4 linked regions of the Homo sapiens genome follow. The protein of the gene in region 2 purifies or fractionates together with the protein of the main gene of each other region. This does not show direct contact. Each region holds a gene or a part of one and is shown on either strand. Other genes may lie near its edges. The genes, in order: FKBP5, CDK13, TUBA4A and SPSB3.

The links.
Region 1: the proteins of CDK13 (region 2) and FKBP5 purify together in Homo sapiens (affinity purification with mass spectrometry; 4 studies listed by BioGRID and IntAct, with this or other methods). This does not show direct contact.
Region 3: the proteins of CDK13 (region 2) and TUBA4A purify together in Homo sapiens (affinity purification with mass spectrometry; 3 studies listed by BioGRID and IntAct, with this or other methods). This does not show direct contact.
Region 4: the proteins of CDK13 (region 2) and SPSB3 purify together in Homo sapiens (affinity purification with mass spectrometry; 3 studies listed by BioGRID and IntAct, with this or other methods). This does not show direct contact.

Annotation. Positions count from the first base shown.
Region 1 is NC_000006.12:35,685,916-35,693,265, forward strand, and holds the start of FKBP5 (peptidyl-prolyl cis-trans isomerase FKBP5), read right to left. Parts: upstream 3,001-7,350; 5' UTR 2,889-3,000; exon of another isoform or gene 2,817-2,888; intron 1-2,816. UniProt on the Homo sapiens protein: Immunophilin protein with PPIase and co-chaperone activities. Component of unligated steroid receptors heterocomplexes through interaction with heat-shock protein 90 (HSP90).
Region 2 is NC_000007.14:39,945,368-39,953,262, reverse strand, and holds the start of CDK13 (cyclin-dependent kinase 13), read right to left. Parts: upstream 3,008-7,895; 5' UTR 2,622-3,007; coding exon 1,411-2,621; intron 1-1,410. UniProt on the Homo sapiens protein: Cyclin-dependent kinase which displays CTD kinase activity and is required for RNA splicing.
Region 3 is NC_000002.12:219,250,908-219,258,063, forward strand, and holds the start of TUBA4A (tubulin alpha-4A chain), read right to left. Parts: upstream 3,012-7,156; 5' UTR 2,952-3,011; coding exon 2,949-2,951; intron 2,513-2,948; coding exon of another isoform or gene 2,501-2,512; exon of another isoform or gene 2,336-2,500; intron 1,324-2,335; coding exon 1,101-1,323; intron 807-1,100; coding exon 658-806; intron 417-657; coding exon 1-416. Other genes in the region: TUBA4B (tubulin-like protein alpha-4B), read left to right, coding at 2,501-2,512. UniProt on the Homo sapiens protein: Tubulin is the major constituent of microtubules, a cylinder consisting of laterally associated linear protofilaments composed of alpha- and beta-tubulin heterodimers.
Region 4 is NC_000016.10:1,779,559-1,787,528, forward strand, and holds the start of SPSB3 (SPRY domain-containing SOCS box protein 3), read right to left. Parts: upstream 3,014-7,970; 5' UTR 2,944-3,013; exon of another isoform or gene 2,475-2,943; intron 2,265-2,474; exon of another isoform or gene 2,208-2,264; intron 2,174-2,207; exon of another isoform or gene 2,158-2,173; coding exon of another isoform or gene 2,089-2,157; exon of another isoform or gene 1,938-2,088; coding exon of another isoform or gene 1,926-1,937; coding exon 1,800-1,925; coding exon of another isoform or gene 1,635-1,799; exon of another isoform or gene 1-1,634. Other genes in the region: cytosolic Fe-S cluster assembly factor NUBP2, read left to right, coding at 3,463-3,478, 6,979-7,097, 7,199-7,397.

The sequences.
Region 1 (7,350 bases), on a different chromosome or scaffold from region 2:
AGGTTGCAATGAGCCGAGACTGCGCCCTTGCACTCCAGCCTGGGCAACAAGAGCAAAACGCCATCTCAAAAAAAAAAAAAAAAAAAAAAGCAAAACTAATGTCTATAATAGTGGCATTTGATCTAGCCTCAAAATTAGTTGTTTTAATGTAAGCCCTTGTTTTCTGTAGCTTCATTTATTTAAAAATACTTACTATCACCTCCAAACTCAAAAGGAGTTATACCTGAGGGTAAATGGCTTTAAAAACACTCCCAATGTTTATTGTGTGGATTTGAGAATTCAACTTATGCTTAATTTTTGAAACTGAAATTGTAGTTGATAATTTTATGATATCATCTATTACAAGTTAAAGTAGAGAAAAATCAGTAATTAAAATATCTAAAAACTAAATTTTAAAATGGGCTTTTAATTAAACCTAAAGTTAATAAAACTTTAACTTTTATAGTTAAAATACTAAAATACACATATGTAAATAAATTTATGAAATGCAACTTTATTGTATGTGGTTTATATACATACATCATCACAGAATAAGGACAATAAACAACTAATTATTAATAGTATTTTATATATTTAAGTACACTAAAGAGCAATTATATAAATGATAAAAAATAATGGAAGCTACAGTCTTATCCAGTTCCTTTCAACTATTTACATAGAATAAGCCCTCCGAACGTGAGGATGAATTATTGTTCAACCTATCCACACTAAACATCAAAAAGCCAACTTAGCTTTTAACAGCAGTAACTTCTTCTACAGGTATACAAACAGGATGTTCTTTCCTCTCCAGACTAATTCATCCTAAGCAGAGAAGCCTTTAGGAAACTAAACTGAACCCAAAATATGCATTATTTTCCAAGAATAAACAGATAACTAAAGATTTAATAAGTTGCCTAATGCAATATTTTAAGTTTTTCATTTGAACTGATTAAAAATATGTTTTAAAAAAGAAATTCACCCAAAATTCCCATAACTAAAAGAATTAAAGACTCAGAAACATACAAAGACCTCATAGCTTGTTATGGAGAAATAAAACAATAAAGACCACTATATTCTTTTTAATCTAAAATAGTCACAATTATTGGTTGAAGAGTTGATGGTTCAATGGCGAACTCTTATCAGCTATTAGCTAACTGTAATTACCTAGGCAAATAAGTAAAATGACCATTCAATGAATAATAAACTAGCATAATTAAATCAAGATTAGCAACTTTGTTCTTAACTTAAACTTAATCTCCGAAGTATAAATCTTACCTAATACAGATATCAACCAAGACACATTAGAAGAAAAAAACTGGGTAACTAAATAAAGTGTTTCTCACAAATAATGAGTATTAATAACCCTCGTTTTAAAAATGTCATTTGTATAGAATCTCTAAATTGGTCAGGGCCATAATTGCAGACTGTCAGGCAGAGGTCAGCTGGGGGAGAGACAAACAGAAAATGGTGAAGTGAAAGTATGACAATAAAAATTTCCCACCAGAATAAGAATTTTTTTCAAGTCGATTCTTGGCTTTTGATTCAAACACCAAGAGAAGCAGCTCCCTTTAGAGAATTACTTTATAATTCTCTAAAGTAAAAACCCTTATGGAGGAGGTGGATAGAATCCCAGACTATTAAAAATACTTAACCAAAATATGCTTTAACTTTTCCCTTGTCCACAATCTAACAAAATGGGAAGACAATGAAAATAAACACTCCTGTCTACACTCAGAGAGGCAAAGAAAGCTCCCATTCAGTAGTAAGCCTTATTCCACTGGAAAACATACTCCTGAAAAGTAAATCCAAAACCACGAGCTCAAACTGCTTCATGCAGAATTTACTGAACGGCGGCCAAACGCTGAACACACTGTCCTGAACCACACTGAAGGGTATCTACAATTCTGCATCTCCGCTTACAACTTGAAACTTACTACGCTTTCGCCACCACTGCAGAACCCGATTTTAGAGACTACGATGGTCCTGCCGGTTCGTTAATCGAAGAAAGCCACTCTGCACCCTGACGCTCGTAGTGTCTTTTTGGTAATACTGGTTTTTGACTCTTATACTGTGACCGGTGCACCTTTTTGGACGACCAATAAGGCGGAAGACGTTTTCACGTCCCAGAACAGAAGAGCATAAGGAGCCCTGGCACAGCGTTCAGCCGCTTCGGTATGGCCTGGGAGTGACGCGGATCACCTGTTAGACGGCGCTGCGCGGACTCCTCCACAAGCGGCCGACAGCGGCGATGCGGTTCCCCAACGCTTGTCCCGAGGCGGCAGGTGAAGGCGGGGACCGCCCGTCCACACCCGGAGCGCGGCCACCCCGCCACCATCCCCTTCACAGCCCCGCCAGGTGGGCGAATCCGCCCCGCGCCCGCGGCGTCCCGGCGCTCGGCTCGCCCTGGGGTCCGGTTGTCCCGGCGCCCGGACCCGAAAGCGAAGTTTGGCTCCCGCCCGCAGCGGTGCCGGCTGAGGGTCCGGCCGCCTGTCCGGGGAGAGCCGGGGGCCAGAGACCGGAGGCGGAGCGGGACCTGTCATCCCGGGCGGGAAACAAAAGCCCAGTGAGGACGGGCGGGCGCGACCCGCCTCGCCTCTGCCGGGAGAGGCCGGCGGGGGCGGAGAGCGGCGCCCGCGGTCACTAGTCTCCGCGCCTCCCGCGGGGAGCACCGGCCCCGCGGCCCCTGGGGCGCGGCGAGGGGCGCCGCAGTGGGGCCGAGGCCTCCCGCGCGCTCCCCTCGAGGCTTCCGGACCCCGCTCCCCCGCGACACGCGGCTCCTGGGCTGCGAAGCCGCGTGGGGGTGGGAGCTGAGGCAGCGAGTGCGACCGCGGCGGGACCTGGAAGGAGGGCGTTCGGCTCCCGGGGCGCCGCGGCCGGCCGCCCCATCTCCGTGGCCATGGCGCCGGTACCTGTCGCCGCGGGGGCTCGCCGACTCCGTCACTCTCCGCCTTGCCCGTGCTCCGCTAACCCTTCAGCCCGCCCAGCAGGCCGCCCGCGCGCCGGACACCGCCGCCCGAGACTGGCAGCGCCCGCGAGCCGGCCCGAATCCCCGGGGCAGCGCCCGGCGCCGTCCCGCCCCAGCCGGCCGCAGGACCCGCCTTCCATAGGGCCCCGGGGCTGTCAGTCCGCCCCCAAAAGGCGCGCGGGCTGTCGATCCGCCTGTCCGGATTGGTGGCCGCGCGCCGTCCATGCAAATGAGGCCCCGCCCCCATCATTTGCTCCTCCACCTCCCCACGCCAGCCCACGTGTCTGGCCCTTGCCCTTTGTGGGGGCCATAGAGAAGGGATGGTGGAAACTGACACCCCCTCACATCTCTTACCTCCCGAGAAATTAATGCCTAAGCAAGCTAGTTGACTTCCCATCTGTATCGTCTCTCTGAAGGCACTGCCCCTCCTATCTGTCCACAGGGCCTACCTAGAGGCCGGAGAGGGGCAGGCCAGGCTGTTTGTTAGGTCAGCTGGCCAGGTTAGCCCTAGGAAGCAACCCCATTAAGTCTAAGATGCCCAGTCGGGACTGGGGAAATCCCACCTCGAGAACCAATTTAGCAGATATCACCTCCCTCTGGACACCCAGTGACTGTAAAGACCATACTTTCTCTTGGCTTGCTACCTTTCAAGCAGGAGATCCCAGGAGATTAAAACAGGAAGAGGCCTTACGGCTGAGTTCGGCCAGGTGGGGTGGCTCACGCCTGTAATCCCAGCACTTTGGAAGGCCGAGGTGGGCGGACCACGAGGTCAAGAGATCGAGACCATCCTAGCCAACATGGTGAAACCCCGTCTCTACTAAAAATACAAAAATTAGCTGGGCTTGGTGGCGCGCGCCGTCCCAGCTACTCGGGAGGCTGAGGTAGGAGAATCGCTTGAACCTGGGAGGCAGAGGTTGTAGTGAGTCGAGATCACGCCACTGCACTCCAGCCTGGTGACAGAGCAAGACTCCATCTCAAAACAAAAACAAAAACAAAACGGCTGAGTTCTTCCGCCAACTCCGAAAGGTAGACTGCCAACCAGATGGCTACCTCTGAGTTACTCCCATAGAGATGCAGGAGCTGCACCTGGGCCTTAGGGAATCTCTAATCAACTCTCTCATTTTTAAGGAAACAGAAACCTGATGTCCCATAGCTAGTTACACGTGGGACCTAATAGTTACCTATGGAAACCTAATATCCCATAGCCAGATTAGAACTCATGTCTCCTGGCTCCAAACCTGCTCTCTTTGCACTATACTGCATTCAAACATTTATGAAGAGCCTCGTCCAGAAATCGCCATGCTGCCTTCAAGAGATGATGCCTGGGCGCCGGGCGCGGTGGCTTACGCCTGTAATCCCAGCACTTTGGGAGGCCGAGATGGGCGGATCACCTGAGGTCGGGAGTTCGAGACGAGCCTGACCAACATGGAGAAACCCCGTCTCTACTAAAAATAATTTTAAAAAATTAGCCGGGCATGGTGGCGCATGCCTGTAATCCCAGCTATTCAGGAGGCTGAGGCAGGAGAATTGCTTGAACAGAGGTTGCAGTGAGCCGAGATCGCACCATTGCACTCCAGCCTGGGCAACAAGAGCGAGACTCCATTCTAAAAAAAAAAAAAGGGTGATGATGTCTGCAGAAAAGACAAATAAAGCCAAGACTGAAACCGCCTCGAGGGCAGGGGTTCTGTCTCAGTCATTTGTCTGTCCTCAGTGCCTAGAAGCTTCCCTGTTTACCAGTTGCCGAGGGGAGTCACTGAAACAATGTATTTGTTCATTAACGCAGAAAAACAAAGTTGATCAAAATTCCTCTGCATACTAATACCAATTGATTAAGCATCTACTATGCTTAATAATAGCACATATTAGGCAGGGCACAGTGGTTCACACCTGTAATCCTAGCACTTTGGAAGACAGAGGTGGGCGGATCACCTGAGGTCGGGAGTTCGAGACCAGCCTGACCAACATGGAGAAACCCCATCTTTACTAAAAATACGAAATTAGCCAGGCATGGTGACGCATGCCTGTAATCCCAGCTACTCGGGAGGCTGAGGCAGAAGAATCGCTTGAACCCGGGAGGCGGAGGTTGCAGTGAGCCGAGATGGCACCATTGCACTCCAGCCTGGGCAACAAGAGCAAAACTCCATCTCAAAAAAAATAATAATAAATAAATAAAATAAAATAAAATAAAAATAACAGCACATATTAAGCTCTATGCTATCAGGGTATATATGTCCCAACCCTCAAGGGCTTCATTAGGAGACAGTGACATACACGTAACATGTCAGTTCTCCTCTTCATGTTACAGGGGTTGTGACAGATGTCTGCATAGGGCACAATGGAAGGCGCCAAGGAAAGAGGAATCAGCTCTTCCTACGAGAGGCAGGGAAGGCGTCATTGAAGAGGTCACCTGACAGTAGAGCTGAATCTTAGAAGATGAAGTAGGTGTTTGCCAGACAGAGGGGTGTGGACAAGGGGGAAAGGGACTCCCAGGCAGGAGGGGACAGCGTGAGCAAAAAGCATGCAGACCTGGAAAAGCCTAATAATTGAGGGAACAGTGAGGAGCAGTGTGGGCAAATCTGCAGAGGGCTGTGTGGACGTGTCACATGTCTGGGACCAGGCTCTTCCAGGAGGAAGACAGAAAGGCAGGGGAGGCTGCCAGGCTGTGTTGTAATACACCGCAGCAACAACAACAGGCCCTGTAGATACAGCTACACGGTTCTTTTTTTTTCTAGGCCAGAGTCTGTGGAGAACAGTCAGTTCCACAGTTCCGATGGCAGCCTTGCTAGCCCCACCCACTCTCCCAGAAAACCACTCTGATCACTGCACTTGCCTTCCTTGGCATTTGGAAACACATGTGCTTGCATTTTCCCTAAACATTACTGCCCTTCAGAATTCAAAGATGACATGCGCTATGGCTGCAGATACCTGGATGTGGGATGAGCAGCCCTTTCCTAAGGCACAGTACGGTTCTTTGCAGGGTCTGTACCTAAGACCAGTTCCATGGGTATGTGACCTGTGTAGTACACAGGGCCGTGTACTTAGAAGAGCCCTGTGCTGGGTCTAATGCTCTGCTGCCGCCGTCTTGAAATTCTTAGTACTTTCTCAACAAAGGGCCCTGCACTCTCATTTTTCACTGGGCCCTGCAAATTATATGGCCAGTCCTGCCTGTCACTGGTAGTGACCCTGGGCATGCTTGTGGAACTGCTCAAACCACATCTCATTTTAAAAGCACTTCGCATTCACTAGACTCATTCACATGCATTTTATCATTTGATTCTCTTTTTCTGTCTTCCTTTTTCTTTTAGAGACAAGGGCTCACTCTATTACCCAGGCTGGCCTGGAACCGCTGGGCTCAAGAGACCCTCCCACCTTGGCCTCCTAAACTGTCAAGATTGCAGGTGTGAGCCACCTTGCCCGAACTTATCATTTGATTCTCACAATGGGGTAGGCCAGTGTTACTCTTTATTTTCATTTATTACTTGAAAAAATTGAAGTTTGGCAACTTTCTCCAGGTGGCACAGCTAGGAAGTAGCAGAGCTTGTACTTGAACTCAGCCCAGGCAAGCCCTGTTCCAACTACTACCGAGCTACCTTCATCTTGGTTTCAGAATCCTTTTAAAGGCAGCTTTGTACATTAAGGTTTTTGAGAGTCAGAGTATGCCAGGCGTGGTGGTTCATGCCTATAATCCCAGCACTTTGGGAGGCTGAGGTGGGCGGATCACCTGAGGTCAGGAGTTCGAGACCAGCCTGGCCAACATGGTGAAACCCTGTCTCTACTAAAAATACAAAAATTAGCTGGGCGTGCGCCTGTAGTCCCTGCTACTTGGGAGGCTGAGGCATGAGAATTGCCTGAACCCAGACGGTGGAAGTTGCAGTGAGCCAAGATTGCACCACTGCACTCCAGCCTGGGTGACAGAGTGAGACTCTGTCTCAAAAAAAAAAAAAAAAAAGAAGAGAATACACGGTAGAGTGGATATCTGTCATTTCACGGCTGCCTATCACCTTTGAATAGTTTTTCCTCAGTTTTGAACAATTCTCAGACATTATATGTTCAAATACGATTTCTGTCCTTTTTCTTCTTTCTTTCTGGGGCTCCAGTTGAAACACATTCAACCTTCTTACTTCATCCCTTTATTCTGTATTTTCTGTCTTTTATCCTTCTATGCTTTGTCCTAATAAGTTTCTTCTATTTTCAGCTCACTCAGTCTCTTTTCAGCTAAAAAAAAAAAAAAAAAAAAAATCTCATCTTAAACCCAACCATTGAGCTCCATTTGGTTATTCTATTCTTTTTCTTTTCTCTCTCTCTTTTTTTTTTTTTTTTTGAGATGGAGCCTGGCTCTGTTGCCCAGGCTGGAGTGCAGTGGCGCGATCTCAGCTCACTGCAAGCTCCGCCTTCCAGGTTCACAC
Region 2 (7,895 bases):
TTCGCTAAGGTATCAACTAACATTTTAAGTATGCTTCAACACTCTTTAAGAGTGAAGCAATTTATAGAACTTTTTTGGCTTAAAGACAAACTCACGCTCAGATCTCTATAAACATCACACCTTTACATTTATTATGGTGATACTTCAAAAAGGTCTGCTAATTTTGCAGATGCATATTCGTATTATGTTGAGATTCCACATAACCCATACTTAGAGGTACTGTACATCCACTTGCCATTACTGAAACCCAGGAGGAAAAACTGATACAAATGTCATTTTGCAATACTCTACACTATAAGGTCTGGAATGTCCAAACATCTCAAGGAATATAAGAACCCATAAAATACTCGAAAGTTGTTTTTAATGCACTTTGCTTAGTGGATAAGTATATTTTAAGGCACACTTTTTAAAAAGAATATTATATAACAAAAAAGGCAAGAAAGCTACAGAAAAGTTTTACTCCAATTTCATTAAATTAAATTACACCTTTTAAAGATTTCTGGACAAAGATCCTGATATTTAAAGGTCTAGTTATATTGTGTTTTTATCCTTCGGGTATATATCTAAGAAAAAGTCTACTTAGCTTTTAAAGTAAGCAGTTACAGGCTTATAATAGTATAAGAATGTACTCAGCCATTCACTTGGTTACACTAGGTTACACCACCCAGATTTATAATGTTATTAGCAACTGGGTGTCATCACAAACCAACAAAGAAACCACAGTCTTGTCATTTTTTCTACCTTCTATAATTATGACTTTGAAAGATCAGGTAAAAACTATCCCACACAAGAATATCACTAAATAGATACCTTTTTTAACTTCAGTATTCAGAACTATCGGCTTCCACCTAAGCTTTTTTAACATACTAAAAGAATAAACTTTACAGAAAGGCTGCTTCTCCCATTTCTGTAATAATCATAAGAAACATCTGCAATCCACATCTAACTCTGACATCAGTACCTGATTCTTATTCCCCTGTACAATACTAGATCTTAAGTTGCAGTCCATTCCTAAATTCCCAACAATGAAACCTCTTCACAGAACTTTCAAAATTAAGACTTAAACCACCTCTAGGTTTACCCAAATTGTACCAGAAAAGCAAAGAGCAACTGAGAGAAACCTGTTAACACATTAATGCAACAAGTCTGAAACTTTTAATTCTTCCTTAGAAATCTTCCCTGCCACAGCTAGGAGAAAAGTTCCCTTCGCCCAGTTGCTTTGTCCCTTCGACCCCCTAAAAAAGTGTCACGCGCGCGAAAACGCCTATCCTTCCTGGGAGGCTCAGGCGGTGTTGTCTCGTCTCGGTGGTGGACCTGAGTCGTTCTGAGGACCCGGGCACCACTTTCCCTTCCTCCTGGGGATCTGGCCAGCGCAGCCAAGGCACACACAGGCAGAACGGCAGAACTCACCTGAGCACAGGGCTGTAGGGACTGCGAGAGCGGCGCCAGCTGCTGCTGCTGTAGGGACTAGGGGACACGTCGCCGCCCCGCTCGTAGGAGCTGTGGCGGCTGTAGCTGGGGGAGCGGCGGCGACTGTAGGGGCTCGGGGAGCGCGGCAGCCGCCGAGAATAGGGGCTGCTGCCACCTCCTGCCGGGCTGGGGGACTTGCGGCTCCTCAGGCTCTGAGAGGCCCTGTGGGACACCGGGCTGTCGTCCCGGCCTCCCAGTGGGCTGAGGGACCGCCGCCGCCTGTAGGCCTTAGGCTCGGTCTTGTCCTCCCGGTAGGCCTTGGGCGGTTCCTTGTAGGCCGAAGGCGGCTCCTTGGACGACTTAGTCCGGCTGCGGTGGGCCTTCGAGTCCCGGTCCTTGCGGCTGCTACTGCTGCTGGATGTGGCCGAAGCGCTTTTCCGGCGGCCGCCGCTGCTGCTGCTGCTGCCGCTCTTGGCGACCTCGGCCCGTTCCTCGCCGCTGTGGCTGTGGCGGCTGCGGGACTTGGAGGCCTCGCTGCCACCGCGCTGCCCATCCCGCCGCCGGTGCTCGCGGTGGCGCTCCTTGCTGCGGCCACTGCTGCTGCGGCGGTCCCGGCGGGGCCTGCGCTCCGACCCCTCCCCGCGCCGCTGGGTGCCGGAGGAGGAGGCCGGACTCCCGCCGCTGCCCCCCGTTCCCCCGGCAGCCGTCGCCGCCGTTGCCGCGCTGGCCCCCCCCAGCAGCAGCCCCTGCTCGGACTGGGAGCTCACATCCTCGTATTCCACCAGCGGGGTCACACCCCCGCCGCTACTAGCACCGCCACCGCCGTCCTGCTGCGGCTGGGGCAGCGAGAAGACCCGACGCTTCTCCGCCTCCTGCCCGGCGCGGGGCCCGCGACGCCGCTTCTGCCGCCCTCCTGCGCGCCTCTTGCCTCTCGCCAGCCGCTTGACCTCCAGAGGGGGGCCCGGGCTGAAGCAAGAGGAGGAGGCCGCGGCGGCGGCGGCTGCGGCGGCGGCCGTGCCGGGAGCAGCCAGGAAGAGCAGAGGCGGCGGGGGCGGCGGCGGTTGCAGGAGCTGCGGCTGCAGGAGCGGCAACAGCAGCGGCGGCTGCTGAGGGGACAGGAATCGCCTCCGCTTGCGGCGTTCCTCCAACTTCTTCTCCGCCCAGCTCAGGCCCCCGCCTCCCCCCAGCGCCGTGTCCGAGCTGCTCGGCATCGCCTAGAGCCAGCCGCAGAGCGCGGCGCGGGTGCGGCCTCCTCCCGGGTCAGATCCTGGCCATCTCCCCCGCCGGAAACGGGAGCGGCGGCGGAGGGACACCGAGCACCAGAGCCGGCCGGGAAAAGCGCCACGATAATCCGGGTCGGGACTCGGGTCCCTGGGTTCCAGGTCACAGTGGGGTACGCAGCAGCCTCCGGGCCCCAGGGAAGCAGGAATCCGGGCGGCGGAGCTCCCGATTGCGCTCGTCGTCCTATCCTCGGCAGCGAAAACACCAGATGCGCCGGGCGCTGACCTGCGGGGGAGTCCCGAGTCCTCCAAGTGCCCCCGGGGGTGGGGGAGCGGCCTTGGCCGCGCTCTCGGCTCGGGCAGCGCAACGCGGAAGTACCACCTTCGTCGCCGCTTCACTCCATCGCGCCCTGACGTTGGGTGCAAGTTCAGGGGAGGGGAGTGGGCGAGACAACAACACGCCTCCACCGCCTCCTCCTCGGCGTCGACGTCGTCCTCCTGTGGTGGCGGCGACACACCGCAGGCGCCTCGGAAGTGGCCTGGGCCTGACAACAACTCCCGGCCTAGGGCCTCGCGCACTCTGCGGCCCGCGGGGCTGGGCAGCGGGGCGGGGCGAGGCGGGGGCGACCGGGCTGCGGCTCTCGGTTGGGGCAGCGACTGTGCGGGGCTGGGCGGGGGGCTATTTCCGGGGAGATGGGGGCAGGGGCGTTTCTGAGTCTGTGGCGGTAGGTACGGGCCCTGACTTTCTTCTTCTTTCGCCGCCGCCGCCGCCGCCAGCAGAGGTGGCGGAGCTACCCCTTTCCTCCGCTCCCCCCCTCCACGAGGAGGCTCCTGGTGTGCGCGGCCTGCCCCGGCTCGCTCCTCCCCTTCCCTCTCCGCTCCTCGTCAGGAGGAGGGAGAGCAACGGGACTTGCTGGTTGGGCCCTAACCTCCACAACCCCTCCTTCTCGCCTCGCTCTTTCGGCTTTTCCCCTCAGCCCTGACGTACGACCGGGAGCGCGCCCGCAATTCACGCTCAGAGAAAGCCGAAGATGAGAGGTGGCCGGGGCAAGAGAGGCGGGAACAAAGTTACCGCGCACTGGCGTGCTCGCTCCCGCCAGGGGCCGGCAGGCCGCACCGGAAGTGGCATGATGTAGAAACCGCTCGGCTTCCGGCGAGGGTGGGACTCCGTGTGAAGAAGGGTTAAAGAAAGGAGAGGATTCGTGTGCCGCCCACTGCTGTTGCTTGAGACTCTGCCCGTGGTGGCGCGCCTGTCGTGCTTGTTGCTTGCGTCCAGCGCGCAGTGCCGGTTCCGGCTCTGCAGACGCCGCACTGCCTGCCTGTTGAGCGAAAGGTCACAGTGAGAACAAGTGTTTCTGGAGACTGCGAGGGAAATAATGCTGTTGGTGGCCTTCTGGAGTAGGCAGTTACCCCCCGTGTACCTTCAGTCAAGCCCTGGGAGTGGAACAGCTGCGAAAGGAGAGAAAACACCCCGCAAAACAGGGTGGAGATGGCGTTGGTTTAACTTGTCTCACGTACGCCAAAGTTCGAGGCCCCATTTTTTTTTTTTTTTTTTTTGAGACTGAGTTTCGCTCTCGTTGCCCAGGCTGGAGTGCAATGGTGCGATCTCGGCTCACCGCAACTTCCGCGAGGCCCCTTCTTATCCTAAAAAACACACTTGGGAATCACAGCTCAAGCTTCGGTAACACTATTTACTTTAAAATAAAAATTTTTAAAGCTTTAAATCAATACAGGAAATAAGTGGAATGTTAAAAGGAACTACTGAAAATTCCAAATTCTCAGGAGGCTTGAAATAAAAACATCTTGTGCGAATGAGGACTGCCCTCTTAGTACTTCACCCACTTTCACCTTCATATCTAAACCTTTGGGGTTGCCAAACATAGCCATATAGTGACCTCACATCTCATTTCTTGCCTTAGAATTGCCCTTCAGTTACAGACTAAGCACTCGGGATAATTAGATTAAAATGTAAATGGCTTATTGGCTTTTAGAATGGTTGGAAACGCAAGCTAACCCTGTGCAGTGGCACACGCCTGTAGTCCCAGCTACTCCGGAGGCTGAGGCAGGAGGATCTCTGGAGCTCAAGAGTTCGAGGCTGGAGTGAGCCATGACCGTGCCACAGCACCCCAGCCTGGCCAATCAGCAGGGCGAGGCCCTGCCTCTAATAAAAGAAAAAGCTAAGCCGTCTGTTCAATGACTAAATGTAGTAACCCCTTTGAAAATTCATTTGTTCAGATCATCAGTTGGTTTAGTTCTTAAACACTTGGTATCTATCCATCGTTAATACCTTAGTGTAAATTATTTTAATCAGTTTGACATCACAGTATCACAGACTGGCCTGATTTAAGCTAAGATCAGACTTCACTGACCGAGTACAAAGGATGTTGGTTTGCTGAAGGATAAAGGAGGAGGCAAAGGAATAGGTAATCTTAAAGTCAGAGCATTTCCCAGGAGGGCAGGCCTGGGTGGGCAACACCATGGGATGGGCATTGGGAAACTGAATAGAAAAATAGGGGGCAGGGTTCCTAAAACAAATTTCTGGTTGACAGTATTGTTGAGTGAAGGTCCTGTAGCCAGCCTCCTACCAAAGACTGTTTAGCAAGTGGCTTTTTCAGAAACATGTAGGATCAACTTGTTCCATCGTCCTACGTTAGATAGACTGGAATAACAGAACAAAGAGAGCAAATAAGAGGTTTAGCTTGCAGCTCCCCTCGTGTACAACCAGTTCCACTTGAGAATGTCATCTTCTATCATATATTTTCAAAGAAAACTTGATCCATAGTAAATGGATAATTCCCATGTGTAAGTGTATTAAATGGAGAAGAAGGGAAAAAAAGTAAATGGATAGTTCCCAATCCAGGGTGCAAACAAAAAACATGTACTAAAATATTTTTACTGTGGTTCTACCACCCACGTTTCCTCAAAGATTCTACCTTTGGTGGGGGAGGTTGAATGAACATTTTGAGCTCAAGATACCTGCCCACGTGGTTGGAAACACTAATAACTAATAGGATTCAAACTCCAAAAAATGGGAAGGACCTTTGAATTAGAAGCCGTCTGTTTCTATAAGCCTGTCTGCTTGCCTGAATATTAAAGAGATTTGAAATTCCCATTTACGACTATATTTTTGTTTATTACTGCTTGTGTGTGGGGGGGTGGGGAGTTCGTGTTTTGTTTTGTTTTTGTTTTTGTTTTTTTTGAGACAGAGTTTTGCTCTTGTCGCCTAGGCTGGAGTGCAGGGGTGCAATCTTGGCTTACTGCAACCTCCGCCCCCCAGGTTCAAGCGATTCTCCTGCCTCAGCCTCCCGTGTAGCTGGGATTACAGTTGCCCGCCACCATGCCGAGCTAATTTTTTTGTATTTTTAGTAGAAACGGGGTTTTGTCATGTTGAGCAGGCTGGTCTCAAACTCCTGACCTCAGGTGATCCGCCCGCCTCGGCCTCCCAAAGTGCTGGGATGACAGGCGTGAGCCACTGCACCAGGCCCCAGACTCATCTTTTATGCAGTTCAGAGGCCCACAGTGTTAGCACTTTTTTTTCAGAAGTGCAATATTGCTTCTATGTGCTGGGGAGTGGGAATTCTTGCTGGTTCAGTAAAGCTGAGGGATACGTATTTATAAAACAGTAATGGTGGAGTAAACTTCTAGCTGTCTTCCTAAATGGATTTTCCCTTGATTACCTAAGTAACAGTATCCTGGGTTTGATGGGGGTAAATGTGCCTAGCTAAAAACTACATCTCCCAGTATTCCTTGCAGATAAGACGTGATCATTGGCTCCTGCCAATGAAGTGAAGTGGAAGTTGTTGGGCGAAGCTTATGGAAATGATTCTTAAAAAATGGAAGGTCAGGGCCGGGCCCGGTGGCTCACGCCTATAATTCCAGCACTTTGGGAGGTCGAGGCGGGCAGATCACCTGAAGTCGGGAGTTCAAGACCAGCCATGACCAACATGGAGAAACCCCGTCTCTACTAAAAATGCAAAATTAGCCCAGTGTGGTGGCGCATGCCTGTAATCCCAGCTACTCGGGAGGCTGAGGCAGGAGAATCGCTTGAACCCGGGAGGCAGAGGTTGCAGAGGCTGCGGTGAGCCCAGAGTGCACCATTGCACTCCACCCTGGGCAACGAGAGCGAAACTCCATCTCAAAAAAAAAAAGGAAGGTCAGTTTCGCTGACCTGTACCTTCTGCCCCTCACTCTTACTTCTTACTTTTCTCTACATCTGGAACTCAAATGCAATACTGGAGTTTGAGCAGCTGTCCCATGACAACAAAGGAATAAGCACAGGCTAAGGATGGTGAAGTGAAAGGAAAATAGAAAGACGTGACTCCTCGGGGGCATTATGGATCCTTCAAACCAACCCTAGACTAAAAAAGGAATAATTTGTTTAAGCCACTGCTATTTTCAATTATATTACAGCCAAATTAAGTTGCTAAATATTACCATGTGACCCCATGTCCTCATTCCATTCCATGGTAGGTATCATTAATTAATGGCAGCACTCCTTCCTGCTCACCCTAAATGTAGCCTCAGAATCCCTCAGACACGGTGATGCAGTCATCCATTACCAATAGATCAGGGATGGTACTAGCATTAAACTTATTTTTCATGTTGTCCTAAAATAATTTTCGTGATTTTTGGGGAGTTGGTTTTTCCAAAAACTTAAGATTCATGTCCTGGCCCCAAACTACATTTTTTTTTTTCATACGGGGTGTCTCTGTTGCCCAAGCTGGAGTACAGTGGTGTGATCTCAGCTCACTGCAACCTCCACCTCCCAGGTTCAAGCAATTCTTTTGCCTCAGCCACCCAAGTAGCTGGGATTACAGATGTGCGCCATCACGCCTGGCTAATTTTTGTTTTAGAGACGGGGTTTCACCCTGTTGGTCAGGCTGGTCTTGAATTCCTGACCTCAAGTGATCCACCTGCCTCGGCCTCCCAAAGTGCTGGGATTACAGGCGTCAGCCACCGCACCTGGCCAAATATTTTTTATTCTTTAATTTTACAAGAATGTGTAGGTCCTCTTAGGAGATAAATATTCATGAATATTTGGAAGTTCAACTAGATAACAAGAGTATTTCAAGTTACTAATTACATGAACAAATTTGAGAGAAACAAACATGAACAATTCATCTGTGTTTTGTTAAAATTTCTCATAAGTAGAATCATTAGCATCTTAAAATATAATGCTGATGACGATATAGGTCACAGGAAATCTTTTCTACCAGAACTTTTTTTTTTTTTATTTTTGAGACAAAGTCTTGCTCTTGTCCCCCA
Region 3 (7,156 bases), on a different chromosome or scaffold from region 2:
CGAGGGTAGGGCACCAGGTTGGTCTGGAACTCTGTCAGGTCCACATTGAGGGCCCCGTCAAAGCGCAGAGAAGCTGTGATGGAGGAGACAATTTGGCTAATGAGGCGATTGAGGTTGGTGTAGGTTGGGCGCTCGATGTCTAGGTTGCGGCGGCAGATGTCATAGATTGCTTCGTTGTCCACCATGAAGGCACAGTCTGAGTGCTCCAGGGTGGTGTGGGTGGTCAGGATAGAGTTGTAGGGCTCGACCACGGCTGTAGACACCTGGGGGGCTGGGTAGATGGAGAATTCCAGCTTGGATTTCTTGCCATAGTCAACAGAGAGCCGCTCCATCAGGAGTGAGGTGAAGCCAGAGCCAGTGCCCCCACCAAAGCTGTGGAACACCAGGAAGCCCTGAAGTCCTGTGCACTGGTCAGACTGAAAGGCAAGAACGAGAAAGAACAGTTTAGGTAGGGGAGGGGCCTGAGGGACTCTATCACCTGGCTCCATAAAGCGTAAGATACATCAGCAGTCAGGGCAAATACTGAGGATGCCATAGCAGCACCACACTCGAGACCATGTATAGTTAGAGATGACCTCCTGAAAGGATCTGAAAAAAAATATTCCTGACCATTAGCACAGTCTCAAAAGTTCCCTCCCTCCCAAGACACACTCTCACCAGCTTGCGGATCCGATCCAGCACTGGGTCAATGATCTCCTTGCCAATGGTATAGTGACCACGGGCATAGTTGTTGGCAGCATCCTCTTTCCCAGTGATGAGCTGCTCTGGGTGGAAGAGCTGTCGGTATGGGCCATTTCGGATCTCATCTGGAAGGGCAAAAACCACAAAGCTATGCTCAGCAGGGACCTTCCTCCCCCAGGGTGGTAGCTGTGGCCAGATGCATGGAAGGACTCATCCTCCTGCCAGCCTGAGATACCAGAGTGTGAGAGAAACCCAGACCAGCTGCCCAGGCCAGTCTCAGATCAGCTTGCCTTCTGCAGCTTCAAGTACGGCTAGGAATTTTCAGGGCTAGGAATGCCTGGTCTAAATACCCTCTCTCTCCAGGGAGAAGCTTTGAGTCATGCTCCACCCCCTTCAATTTTGTCCCCACTTCCTCTCACCAATGACCGTAGGCTCCAGATCCACAAAAACTGCCCGGGGTACGTGTTTTCCAGCACCAGTTTCACAGAAGAAGGTGGTGAAGGAGTCGTCCCCTCCACCAATGGTCTTGTCACTGGGCATCTGCCCATCAGGCTGAATCCCATGTTCCAAGCAATAGAGCTCCCAGCAGGCATTGCCCATCTGGACACCTGCCTGCCCCACGTGGACTGAGATGCATTCACGCTGAGGGATAGAGAGAGGGGACACAGCATGAGCCCCACATCCACAAGTCCTCACCTTGCGAGTCTCTCTTCCACCCTATCATCTACCAGCTAGGATGACTCAGTTGGCAAGAGTGGAGGGTTGGGGCTGGGCAGAGGTGAGAAGAGAGTAGCAGCCTGCCCGGGCTCCCAGGTACAGGACTCCCCACCTGGAGGCACCCAGCAATGCAGGCCAACCTCTTAGCCCACTTCTCAGTGGGGAATCTGTCAAGTGAGCACTGTGGCTCCACATGACAAAAGGTTTCCTAGAGGTATGGGTTTACAGCTAGAGGCCCCCCCCCCACTTGATTAATTATTTGCTTTGAGTATGAACAGCTAGAATTCATAGAACCCTTTCCCTCTTTCTTTCCTGTAAGCTGCAGAGGTGTCTCAGCCATCCAATCTGGCATCAACTGACCACACGCCATCAGGATGCCCTCCTCCCTCACCTTTAAATCCCATCTGGCTCTGGGGATCAATCCCATCTGGCTCCTCTCCCCACCTCCACCCCCGCACCCTGGGTGTCTTCACCACTTTCATCTCCCGTGTCAGCCCGCACGGAAATAGCGGCGGTAATGCTTGTAAGCTCAGACAGCAGGGGCCAGCAATAAGGTTTGAGGGTACTGGGGCGCTCACTGCCTTAGGCTCCGTCCCTGTCAGCCCGAAATTAACCCCTAAAGCACTAAAGTCCGGCAGGGCCCGCGCGCTCTTCCCACACCGAAATGGCGGGGTGACGGTTTCCAAATACCCAGAAAGGAAGTGGAACCTGCGGTGAGGCCCCAGAGGTGACCCGCCTTGTCCCGGGCAGGATGGGCGCCATCCTGCAGCCCAGCCCTACATCCGCTCTCCCTCTGGAGTCTTTACAGTTATTTCCCAGCCCAAAGCGGGGATTGGGTTTCGGCCCCCGCTCCTGGGCTATAAATACCACCCCCTACATGCACCTCTCTCCCCTCCCCCCAACCTGGCCTCGGCCCGCGCAGTGCTCAGCGCCAGCTGTCTCTGCCCATCCGCGCACCCGGGCTTCGGCTGGAGAGGGCCAGCTCGCTTCAGGAGGCCGAACCCCGTTCCCACCAACCCTCTCAGCTCAGACGCGGGGTGCTGAGTCACGGGGGGGGGGTGGTTCTGTGGATAGTTGGAATGCATACACAGAGGAAAGGGGGATGCGGCACCAGGTAACCTGACCCCTTCCACCTTCTAGCGCCAAGCACGTGCTCGGTCAGTGCTGAGGACCAGGGACTGGGGATGTAAGAGGGCAGCCAAACCCGTCTTCTTTTGCCCGCGGAAAGGACGGGGCGCGGGCCCGCGTGACTCTCATACAGAGTCGGGACACAAATGCTCGTAAGGCAGGAGCAGAGTGCCAGGAAGGGTTCCTCTCTGTTACTGAAGAGTCGCACTCCACCCCAAGCCCCAACCCCAGCCACCGAAGGTGAACTATACGGCTCGGCCAAAGTCACCAGGAGGGGGTTGGGGAGGGAGGATGCAAAACCCTCGCACCTCCTGGAGACCCGGAACGCCCGGTGGAGGTCCCCGAGCATGCCTGGAAGAAGTGTCCCCCAAAGGAGAGGGGCAATTAGGGGACAGGCGCGACCCCGGCCGGGCCGCACTCACCATGGTGAGTCCGGGCGGTGCGTCTCACGTTGAGTCGGGGTGACAGGTCTCAGTGAGAACTGCGCTAGCTGCAGTGCCGCACCGCCCTTATAGGCGGGGGGGGGGCGGGGCCCGCGTTCCCCGCTCGCCCACTAGAGGCTGGGCGGCCCGCAGGCCACGCCTCCCGGGAGGGTAAGCGGCCCCCCCGAGGGGCGGAGCCTGGCCTGGTACCCTCCCCAAGCTGCGCGGGGGTCCCTCACCTGTCCCGCTGGGATTAAGAGTCGCGATTCGGGCTTTAACCATTCTTTCCTCGTTTTGAGCAGACACGCTGGGCTCCCGAGGGCCTCCGCGGAGATGCAGGGTGCTGTGGCAGGGCGAGTCTCACCTGCACCTGCGTCCTGGAGGCACCGGTCATCCAGGTGTTCTGACTTAGGTCGGGAGCAGGCGAGGCGGTCCTTCCCAAGCGGCCACAGCTGGCCTTCACCCCTGCCCTTCCAGCCCTGCCTCCCAGGAGACTCGGGCCGGCTGTGAGGCTGTGGCGCGTCCCCGGGGAGCCCTTGCCAGCTGCCTGACGCTTCCTGGTCCCCGGCCGGGGCGGCAGCCTTTCGCCGACGCCTGTGGGCGGCCGAGGACCCAGAACTGCACAGCCTGAGCCCCAGATTGCCAATGCCTTAGGCGCTCCCGCAGAGTCGAGCCCCGCAGCCTGTCTGCCGGGGCCGACCCCGGAATCTGCCGCGGCTCGCCGGCCGCCCGCGGGTCAGTGGCGCTGTCATCAGCGCAGTCACTATGATGCCCTCGCTGAGGGCACCTGCCCACTCCCCTGCTGCCAGAACTGCGGGAGCGCTGACCGGGGGACCTCAGGACCTGGATTCTCCTCCAGGCTACCCTGTGTGACCTTGAGCAAGTGACTTAACCTCACTGAGTCCTTGACATTTTCGTGGGTGAAAAGGAGACAGTGATGTCATAGTGGAAACATTGTTGTAAGCTATCAAAATGTCTGTTGCCTCTGAAGAGAAAAGAAGAAAATCGAGATTCTCATATCTTGGATGATTCTGACTCTTGGTCTCTTCTGTCTCTAACCCAAGAGCAGGATCTGCAACCCGCACCTTAATGGTCTCAGCACTCAGCCCCTGGTCTCCGCAGAAGCCCTTCTTTCTACATTTCATTCCGTTCTCTCCACCCCATCTTTTCAAGCTACTTCTGCTTTCTCTTTCTCTCTCTCTCTCTCTCTTTTGAGTCAGTGTCTTGCTGTGTCACCCAGGCTAGAGTGCAGTGGTGCAATCTCAGCTCATTGCAACCTCCATCTCCCGGCTCAAGGCCATCCTTCTACCTCATCCTTCCACCTCAGCCTCCTCAGTAGCTGAGACCACAGGCGTGCACCAACACCATGCCCAGCTTATTTTATTTATTTATCTATTTTTGAGATGGAGTTTCGCTCTTGTTGCCCAGGCTGGAGTGCAATGGCACGATTTCGGCTCACCTCAACACCTGCCTCGCGGGTTCTAGCGATTCTCCTGCCTCAGCCTCTGGAGTAGCTGGGATTACAGGCATGGATGCCTGGATGATTTTTGTATTTTTAGTAGAGACGGGGTTTCACCATGTTGGTCAGGCTGGTCTCCAACTCCTGACCTTAGATGATCCACCTGCTTCAGCCTCCCAAAGTGCTGGGATTACAGGTGTGAGCCCCCACACCCGGCCTTATTTTTTGTATTTTTAGTAGAGACAAGGTCTCGCCATATTGTCCAGATTTGTCTTGAACTCCTGAGCTCAAGCGATCCACCCGCCTCAACCTCCCAAAGTGCTGGGATTACAGGCCTGAGCAACCACCCCAGCCTGCCTTGCATTTTCTAATTGTCTCCCTTCACTGGGGAAAGTCATCTGGCAGTGCCCCAGGTGCTGCTGGTTTGCAGATCTTAAGAAACCTGTCTTCCTGGCTCTACATCACTTGGAAAGGATTCACCCCTCCCTCCCCCATCACCTGACAACACAACATAATACCATGAAAGAACTAGTGATGGCAACTCTCTATCAACAAAATAGGCAAGGCATGGAAAGGAATATAGTGAAATATGACAAGGTCTTTCTTCCCAGTAGACTTGCCATCTGATTGGGAGAACAAGACTCATTCATAAAAAGAAAACTGACAGGGGCGTATAATGAGGCTTCTTTGGGGAATAAGGTCATGGTCCCTACAAAGAAAGGAGCCGTGGTGACTATAGGACACATGGCAGTAGGTTGCAGACCCTCCCTGAACCTCTTTTTCCTTGTGCTCTCCTATCCTAGCAGAATGAACATAGTAAGAGACTTGAGCTATCTTAGGAAAAACTCTAAACCTCTTTGACCTTCAGGTGCAGATTCTTCATTTGTAAAACCGGGATAACAACTTCAGATTGTGAATATCAGATGAATTTAGAGATGTACATATTCACATCAAGGCACTGTGTAAGTAGCTGTGACATTTATTTTAGTGCATATAGCACATCATGCTATAGTTATTTGTGTACATGTCCATCTTAATATTATAGATAGCAAACTATTGGAGGTAAGGACTGTGTCTTATTCATCTTTGTTTCTAGCTCCTAGCATAGTGCTTAGCACACCTGGTAAGCATTTGCTAAGTGTGTGTCAGAAGAATTGTTTCACTTCAGAGATGGTAGGCAGAAGAATGCTACCCCATAAAGATGTCCACATCCTCATCTCCAGGACCTGTGACTGTTACCTTACATGGCAAAATACTTTGAAGATGTTATTAAGGTAAAGATCTTGAGATAGGGAGATGATCCTGGATTATCCCAGGTAGGCCCAGTGTAATTTCAAGGGTCCTTATAAGTGAAAGAAGGAGGCAGGAGGGTCAGAGTCAAAGAAGAGGTCAGACCTGGTGCAGTGCTCATGCCAGTAATCCCAACACTTTAGGAGGCTGAGGTGGGAGGATCACTTGAGGTCGGCAGTTTGAGACCAGCTTGGGCAACATAGTGAGACCCTGTCTCTACCAAAAAATAAAAATTATAAAATAAAGAAGAGGTCAAAAGTAAGTAGAGGTCAGAATGATGTGATTGTTGGCTTTGAAGAGGGATAGGGGCCATGAGTAAAAGAATATGGGCAGCCTCTAGAAGATGGAAAAGTCGAGGAATAGATTCTCCCCTAGAATTTCCAGAAGGAAGGCAACCTGGCCAACACCTTCATTTCAGTTCTGTAAGACCCATTTTGGCTTTTTTTTTTTTTTTTTTTTAAGATGGAGTCTCACTGTTGCCCAGGCTGGAGTACAGTGGCGCGATCTCGGCTCACTGCAAGCTCCACCTCCCGGGTTCAAGCAATTCTCCTGCCTCAGCCTCCCGAGTAGCTGGGACTACAGGCATGTCCCACCACTCCTGGCTAATTTTGTATTTTTAGTAGAGATGGGGTTTCACAGTGTTAGCCAGGATGGTCTCGATCTCCTGACCTCGTGATCCACCCACCTCAGCCTCCCAAAATGCTGGGACTACAGGTGTGAGCCACTGCGCCCAGCCTTTTTTTTTTTTTTTTTTTTTGAGGCAGGATCTTGGCCGGGCATGTAATTCCAGCACTTTGGGAGGCCGAGGCAGGTGGATCACGAGGTCAGAAGTTCAAGACCAGCCTGACCAACATAGTGAAACCCCGTCTCTACCAAAAATACAAAAAATTAGCCAGGTATGGTGGTGTGCACCTGTAATCCCAGCTACTCAGGAGGCTGAGGCAGGAGAATCGTGTGAACCTGGGAGGCAGATGTTGCAGTGAGCCAAGATTGCACCATTGCACTCCAGCCTGGGCAATAGTGAGAGACACTGTCTCAAAAAAAAAAAAAAAAAAAAAAAAAGAGACAGGAAGACAGGATCTTGCTCTCTTGCCCAGGCTGGATTGCAGTGCTGAGGCAGGAGAATCGCTTGAACCAGGGAGGCAGAAGTTGTGGTGAGCCAAGATTGTGCCATTGCACTCCAGCCTGGGCAACAAGAGCGAAACTGTCTCAAAAAAAAAATATATATATACACACACTATATATATATATTTTATAGATATGGGGTCTTGCTGTGTTGCCCAAGCTGGTCTAGAGCTCCTAGCCATAAGCTCTTCTCCTGCCTTGGCCTCCCAAACTGCTGAGATTACAGGCATGAGTCACCTGGCCCATTTTGGGTGTTTTTTTTTTTTTTTTTTTTTTTGAGACAGTCTCTCTGTGTCACCCAGGCTGGAGTGCAGTAGTGTGATCTCAGCTCACA
Region 4 (7,970 bases), on a different chromosome or scaffold from region 2:
ACAGACAAGGCAGGCCCAGACAACTCTACCCCACTGCCTAGAAGTGCGGGTCCCCAGAGCCAGGGTAGACCCCCTGAGTCAGGAGCCCGGGCACAGAACTGAGCACCTGCACTGCAGGCCCAGGGCCGGGTTCCCTGGAGAAGGAGAAAGACTGAAGCCACTGCCTACCTCCTGCCCACAACAGACTGCAGGCCCATTTGGTGACACAGGACAAGCAGCACATGTGTCGAACACTGCCGAGCCCGCAGGCACGCCTGCATCCCACAGCCACGAGCCTGTGAGGCTCAGGCATGTGACCTGCAGGAGCTGGAGGCGGGCGGGAAGGCAGGTGGGGGCCTCTCCCTGGCTGGAGCAGGGAGCTCCAGGAGACCTCAGGACGGCCCCCACCCGGTGGGTAAGGACCCTGTTTCCCAATTTGCCCCCAAGGCCTAATGGACCCACCGGGCTTAGGGAGTCCTCACTCAGAGGAGAGGAGCCCACCCCTCCCAGGACACCTGGCTGAGCCGGAACAGCAGCGCAGGGGAGCTGTGACAGCAGAGAGCAGCACCAGGTCACACAAGCAGCCGCCCCGGAAGGACACGGCCCATGGTGACAGAGGACAAGCAGCATGCGTGTGTCAGACACTGGCCTGGCCTGTGGACACGCCCGCGTCCCACAGCCATGACCCTGCGAGGCCAGGAGAGACTGCTCCAGGGCACATGACCTGTGGTAGCTGGAAGTGGGGCAGGGAGGCGCAGCCACACTCCTGCTCTGGTCCGAGGGAGATCTCAGGAAACCGACTGGGAAATCACCCCCCACAGGGACCCCCACCCCTCCCAGCCTCACTGCGCCCGTCAGGCCAGGCAGCTGCCCTCAGGGTCTGCCAAGGTGGGGGTCAGGGGCCATGGGGGCAGGTAGCTCTGCCTGCAAAGCCCACAAGCATGTCAGATCACCTGGGCTGCAGACAGACAAACACCTGAGCTGTTCTGAATACCTTCAGGTTCCTGGCCTCCCTGAGCAAGTGCAGAAATTTTTACCTTCAAGGATCAGGGTTTTTCTGTTTGTTTGTTTTTTAACACACATATATGTGAACAAAGAGTATGCGTTTGTACTGGCAGAAGAAGCGTCTGGTAAGACAACCAGCAAGTTAACAATGGTCACCTCCAGAAATGGGCTGGGTAAACCAAAGAATTTTTTTGTTTTTGTTTTTTTTGAGTCAGGGTCTAGCTCTGTCACCCAGGCTGGAACGCACTGGTGTGATCACGGCTCACTGCAGCCTTGACCTCCCTGGCTCAAGCAATCCTCCCAGCTCAGCCTCCTGAGTCGTTGGGACTACAGGCACGTGCCACCACGCCTGACACATTTTTTAAATTTTTGTAGAGACAGTGTTTCACCATGTTGCCCAGGCAGGTCTCAAACTCCTGGGCTCAAGTGGTCCTCCAGCTTCAGCCTCCCAAAGTGCTAGGATTATAGGTGTGAGCCACAGTGCCCAGCCCCGTAGTGGAGAATTTCTGTTGAATGAACCAAAAGCAACTGCCAACCTCTCCATGCACCATGTGTTTCAGAGGAGAAAGCACAGTGAAGAATGCAGTGTGTTCTGAGGTCCTGTCACCCCTGAGGCTGTGTGTGTCCTTTGCCAAATTAAAGAGTCTTACTGAATGCGGTGCATCCAGGAGACAGGCCCAGGTTTGGACTGGTCCTCTAGCCTCAGAAGCATCTTTTTCTCCGACTGATTCCGTGTTCAGGTAATGTCTGCCTGCCTGCCTAGGGCATCTCCACACCTTAGGCCAGCCACGTCCGCCTCGCCCGCTGGAACCTACCTGCCCATCAGAGTCGTAGCCCCAGTTAGTGGAGCCTGCTAGAGCCACGGCCCGGGCATCTGCGTCTCGGCGGGCTGCACTCAGGACGAAGTGCCAGGCCCTGCTGTTCCGGGGGCGTCTGGCCATGGTGGAAAGAATCTAGAAGAAAACACAGGCTCTGGGCAAAGGAAGACTCACAGCACTCCCAGCCCTGAGCTTCCAGGCTGGGCCACGGACCCACTCAAAGTGGGGACTGCAGGGGCCGCACCGGTGCCCAGCCAGGGCTCCAGAACGCTTCAGGAGCCCGTACCTCACTCCAGGATCTGAGCAGCTCAATAAAACCCAGGTAGATCCTGTGAAACGCCACCCAGACACCCATGACTCCGGAATGCGAATCCCAGCCCCTCTCTCCGGTTCCACCTCACGAACCTGGCTGCCCCGCCCGCCTGTCCCGCAGGCATCTAAAACCTCCACTCGCTCCTCCTCTGTCGTCCGGTTTGACAAATGGCATCTCCGGCCTCCCAGTTCCTCATGCCAGAAGCACCGTGACCGCTCCCCGACACCTTCCCCTCACGCCCGGCCCGACCGCCGCACCCGCCTGCATCCTCCTCCCGCCACCGTCTCCTGGGCCGCGCAGCTCGCCTTCCCCTCCGCTCGCTACCGCCAGGGCTCCTCGTGAAACACAAATCTTAAAACCTGCTCAGCGCTGGCCGCTGTTATGGTATAAAATGCAAAAGGCTGCGAGGGCCAGGTCTGCGCTTCCCAGGCCACCTGCCTGGCACCTCCCTCGCCAGCTCCGGGGTTCCCGCCTAGCCTTCCAGGGCCGACCCCTGCGCCGGGCTCGCGGCTGGCAACGCCCGCTGGGCCCCGGGTGGGGTTCCAGGGAGGCCGGGGCGGATCGCGGCGCCCGGACCGCCGAACCCTGCCCAGCCCCAGGCGAGCGCGTGTGCAGCGGGAGCCGCCCTCCCCGGCGGCAGCCCGGCCTGGCTGTTCCCTCCCGCGGGCGCGCGGGTTCCGGAGTCGGCGGCACCGGGGAAGCCTCTCTCGGGCGCGGCCCTCCGGAGAGGAACAAAGGCGGCGCCCTGGCCGCGCTGCTACCGCCGCGCCCGCAAGGTCAGCGCGCCCGCCCAGAGCCCGAGACGTCGGCCCGTGCCCCGCCACTCACCTGCAGCCCCCGCTGCGCGCTCCGCCGGCCCGGCCCTGACCCACTTTCCGCCCCGGAGCGAGACGTAAACAATCCCCGCCCCCTGCGCCCATTGGCTCCGGCGGCGAGGGGCGGGCACACCTGTCTCGGAGCTTCGGGAGAGGGGGCGGGAGTCGGGTGACAAAGCTATTGCCGAGAGGTTTCAGGAACTGTCAGTCCTAATCCAACGTTCCTATTGGTCAGTTCCCAAGCGGTTGGAGACAAAGCTCGCGCGCACATTGGACCCGGGTGGGAGGTGGTACCGCAGGCCGCGTTGACCGGAAAGTAGGTCCGTGTCATCGTCTGCGCCGGAACCTGCGGGACCGGATCGAGAGCTCCTCCGGCAAGCTGATTGGCTGGGACAGCAGGATTAGGCCTGTCAAGAAGAGCCACGGGCGGGCACGCACTGCCCATTGGTTGGAAGGCCCTTCGCTCTAGCTGGGAGGCTGACGGCCCGCGGGCGTAAGCGGACTGCAGCCGCGAGCTCCTGGAGGCGGCGGGATGGAGGCGGCGGCCGGTGAGTGGCGGGCCAGGGTGCGGAGCCGCTCCAGGGCCTCGCTTGGGGCCCCGCCGCGTCCCTTCCCGGGGCGGCCTCGCTGCGTCGCGCGCCTCCGGTGCGACCATCACCGGCCGGCGTGGCTGGGCCGGGCCAGAGGCCGCGGCGCGGGCATTTTCTAAACAGGGTCGTTTCCCGCGTGCTCCTGCTTCGATGTGGAAGCTCCGTGATCTCGGAGGGCCTGAGTCGTGGAGTTGGGGGAGCTTTTAAAGTTAACTTTGTTGAGCACCGCGTTGTAGGCGGGCGCGGTGGCGCCTGTGGGCCCCGCTATCCTGGAGGTCGCGGTTGCAACTGCACCGCAGCCCGGGCAAGAGCGAGACCCTGTCTCTAAATAAATCACACGCGCGCAGTCATGAAAGTAAGACGGACGCCAGAATCTCACATGCTTTTAAGTTCTTTGTGGAAGTGGCGCTCTCAGTGTTCAGAAAAGTGTAAGTTGCGCGGGACAGAATTCACACCAGTGGGGACGATCCGTTCGCCAGATCAGCGCCGTGGGCCCTCCTGAGTAGTGGGAGCCGCATTTATCTTCTAAGAGACCTCGAGTCCGATACCAAAAGGAAAACATTCCTCGGACAGCAAGGTCTTGCAGCACAACTCTGACAGATTAGAAACCGAGTGCTGGAGTCTTTTGTTTTTGAGACGGAGTCTCGTTCTGTCGCCCAGGCTGGAGTGCAGTGGCGCGGTCTCGGCTCACTGCCAGCTCCGCCTCCCGGGTTCACGCCATTCTCCTGCCGCAGCCTCCCGAGTAGCTGTGACTACAGGCGCCCGCCACCACGCCCGGCTAATTTTTTGTATTTTTAGTAGAGACGGGGTTTCACCGTGTTAGCCAGGATGGTCTCGATCTCCTGACCTCGTGATCCGCCCGTCTCAGCCTCCCAAAGTGCTGGGATTACAGGCGTGAGCCACGGCGCCTGGCCCAGTGCTGGAGTCTTATTCCAGAGGAGAAGCCTGGAAAAGCCTGTCCTTATTATCAGGACGGATTTACTACAAAGTAAGGATATTACTGAGATTGATAGAAGCTTTTTTTTTTTTTTGAGACAGGGTCTTAACTGTCGCCAAGGCTGAAGTGCAGTGGCACGATCATAACTCACTGCAGCCTTGACCTCCTGGGCTCAAGCGACCCTCCCACCTCAGCCTCCTGAGCACCTGGGACCACAGGATGCACCACCCCGCTTGGCTACATTTTTAATGTGTAGACATGGGGTCTGAATACGTTATTGAGAGTGGTGCGGAACTCCTCCTGGACCGAAATGATCCTTCCACTTTGGCCTCTCAGAGTGCTGGGATTACTGGCGTGAGTCACTGCACCTAGTCCAAGCTTTCGTTTTTTTGTTGGGGGGAGACGGAGACTCGCTCCGTTGCCCAGGCTGGAGTGCAGTGGCACAATCTCGATGACGGCTCACTGCAATCTCCACCTCCCAAGTTCAAGCAGTTCTCCTGCCTCAGCCTCCCAAATAGCTGGGATAACAGGCACACGCCACCACGCCTGGCTAATTTTTTTTGTATTTTTAGTAGAGACAGGGTTTCGCCATGTTGGCCAGGCTGGTCTCGAACTCCTGACCTCAGGTGATCCACCCACCTCGGCCTCCCAAAGTGCTGGGATTACAGGCGTGAGACACCGCGCCCGGCCCCAAGCTTTCTTTAAACGGGGAAAATATGCACATAAAAATTCAAAAGGCCTAGGCTGGGCAAGTTGGCTCATGCCTGTAATCCCAGCACTTTGGGAGGCCGAGGCGGGCAGATCACTTGAGGTCAGATTTGAGACCAGCATGGCCAACATAGAGAAACAGTCTCTACGAAAAAAATAAAAAATTAGCTGGGCATGGTGGCGCACGCCTGTGGTCCCAGGTACTCTGGAAGCTGAGGCGTGGGAGGCTGAGGCACGAGAATTGCTTGGACCCAGGAGGCGGAGGTTGCAGTGAGCCGAGATTGCGCCACTGTACTCCAGCCTGGGCGACAGAATGAGACCCCCTCTCAAAATAAAAATATACATTTACTGTAAAAATATATTTGTCCACCACGTGGAATGATCTGGATTTGCTAACCCATAAAGCTGACCGGGACTCATTGTCCATGGAGAGCGCACTCGCCTTCCTCGGGGAGATGGTGCTTCGCCTCCTTCCTGCACTTCCAGCCCCACTGCCCCACCCGGCAGGCTCATGCTGACTGTGCTTTGCTGACAATCTGCTTAGGAGCTGCCTCAGTTTGCTGAGAAGTGAAATGTTCTTGGGGGAACCCTCAGGGTTGTTGTCCCGGTTCCTGACACTAAGGCCTGCATTTACCATGGTGCTCAGCCCAACACACCAGACAGGCACCATTCCCCCACCTCTGCCAACGAGGAGAGCCCCTGGGGGTTAACACTGCCGCTGGTGCCAGCACTGATGGCAGCATGGCAGTCAGGACCCAGGCCTGACAGAGTCCCCGGCAGCTACAGAAGTGCATGCTCCCTCTCTGCACGGGCCACTTCTGGTACCTCTTGGTGTTGAAGTAATTTAAGTCAGAACCCCTTTTATTGCCCCAGGGGTGACCGGGAGGCCGTGGTCTCGGGGCTTTGTGTTTGCAGGAGTGTGGGGCTGGGGCTGCCTTTTCCGCGTCCCCTGGAGGAGACCTCAGGCAGCCTCTGTAGGTCTGAGGACCCGCCTGCATGCCAGGTTCTCCGGGAGGCTTTGGACTTGGGAGCCTTTGAACGTGCCCTTGAGAGGCGGATCAGAAGGGGGCAGGTTTTACGCATCATGTGTTGAGCCCCTCACATGCACCCTCCAAGGACCTGTCGGGGATGGAGCAGCTTGCTGGAGACAAGGGGCATGGCCTCAGCGGTGGCGCCGGGGTGAGAATGCAGGGGTTTTGCCAAGGTATCTGCACACAGCAGCCCCTGCCGTGTGGCAGGGACAGGATGGGACCCTGGAAGGAAGAGGAGCTGGAGCTGTGCTGGAAGCAGCCGGCTCCCCTCACTTACCGCACATTGCAGGGACCGAGAGCCGGGGACGCTGGTGTGTGACAACGCGTGGTTGTTGCCACCCACCCTGGGCCCTCTGCTGCCTCTGCCGAGCCCAGGTGCACTGGCTGGGGAAAGAGTGGAGTCTGGTTCCCGTTAGAAATAGCAGGGGGCTGGCAGTTTCATGATCATGTGACCCACGTGTGTGTTTGCACACGCGCACGAAGGAACGCATGCACCCTTCCACACAGCGAGAGGAGTTGGGCAGTTTCCACTCTCAGCAGCGCCGCCTCAGGCAGGTGCAGGGAGTGCCGTGGTCTTAGAGGGTCCCCCCGGGTCTGGGGCTGCAGGGGACCTGCCTGGAGGTCTTTACATCGGGGCGAAGTGGGGCACGGGCTGCCTCTGGGTCTGGCGATTCACCACTGCCCCGCTCAGAACGTGGGTGCAAGAGGCAGTGGGTGACCCCGCGTGTGTGGGCACAGTGGGCACCAGGAGCCCTGACCTTCTCTGTCGTGTTTCCGCCCAGAGCCTGGAAACCTGGCCGGCGTCAGGCACATCATCCTGGTCCTCTCAGGAAAGGGGGGCGTTGGGAAAAGCACCATCTCCACGGAGCTGGCCCTGGCACTGCGCCATGCAGGCAAGAAGGTGAGCGCCCTACCCCTCACTGGGCGGAGCCCCGGGCAGCTGCCCGCATCCCGGTGGAGGCCTGGCGGTGCCCCCGGCCTAGGCTGTGCCGCTCCTTGCAGGTGGGAATCCTGGATGTGGACCTGTGTGGCCCCAGTATCCCCCGCATGCTCGGGGCGCAGGGCAGGGCTGTGCACCAGTGCGACCGCGGCTGGGCACCCGTCTTCCTGGACCGGGAGCAGAGCATCTCGCTCATGTCTGTGGGCTTCCTGCTGGAGAAGCCGGACGAGGCCGTGGTGTGGAGAGGCCCCAAGAAAAACGGTAACGGCCGGGCGGCGCGTCCGCCGTCCTGGTGAAGGGGGTTAGCGTCCGTGCCGGCCTCTCCTGTGGAAATGTTCCTCTTCAGCAGCCAGGCCTGTTCCTGGGGACCTGCACATGACACCCACGACCAGGCACAGGGCTCAGGCTGGCGGTGTGTCTCCAGTTGGGTCCGTGCTGCCACACAGCTGTCCCCAACTCCCGGTCAGAGGGAGTGGGGTCTGCTGAGACCCTGGCCATGGCATGCAGGGACCTGAGGCCCCAGTGTGGCAGGTCATAGGGGCAGAGCTGAGGGGGTTCTGGTGCCTCTGGAGCAGGTGGCATTAGACGCCCCCAAAGGCAGGGAGAGGCTGGTGGGAGTGAGGCGCAGGCTGTGGGTGCACCAGTGGGGCATCCACCACGGAGAATGTGGGTGCTCCCATGTGTGGGTACAGACGCCTGGAGGGTCCTGGCTCCGTGTTCTGATTTGGGGCCTCGGGGAGTCAGCGGGGGCTCTGTGGGCAGGGGCCAGACACTGCAGAAAGGGACGCTGTAATGGCCCCGGCCCCATCTTTGCACTCCTGCAGCGGGCCAGGG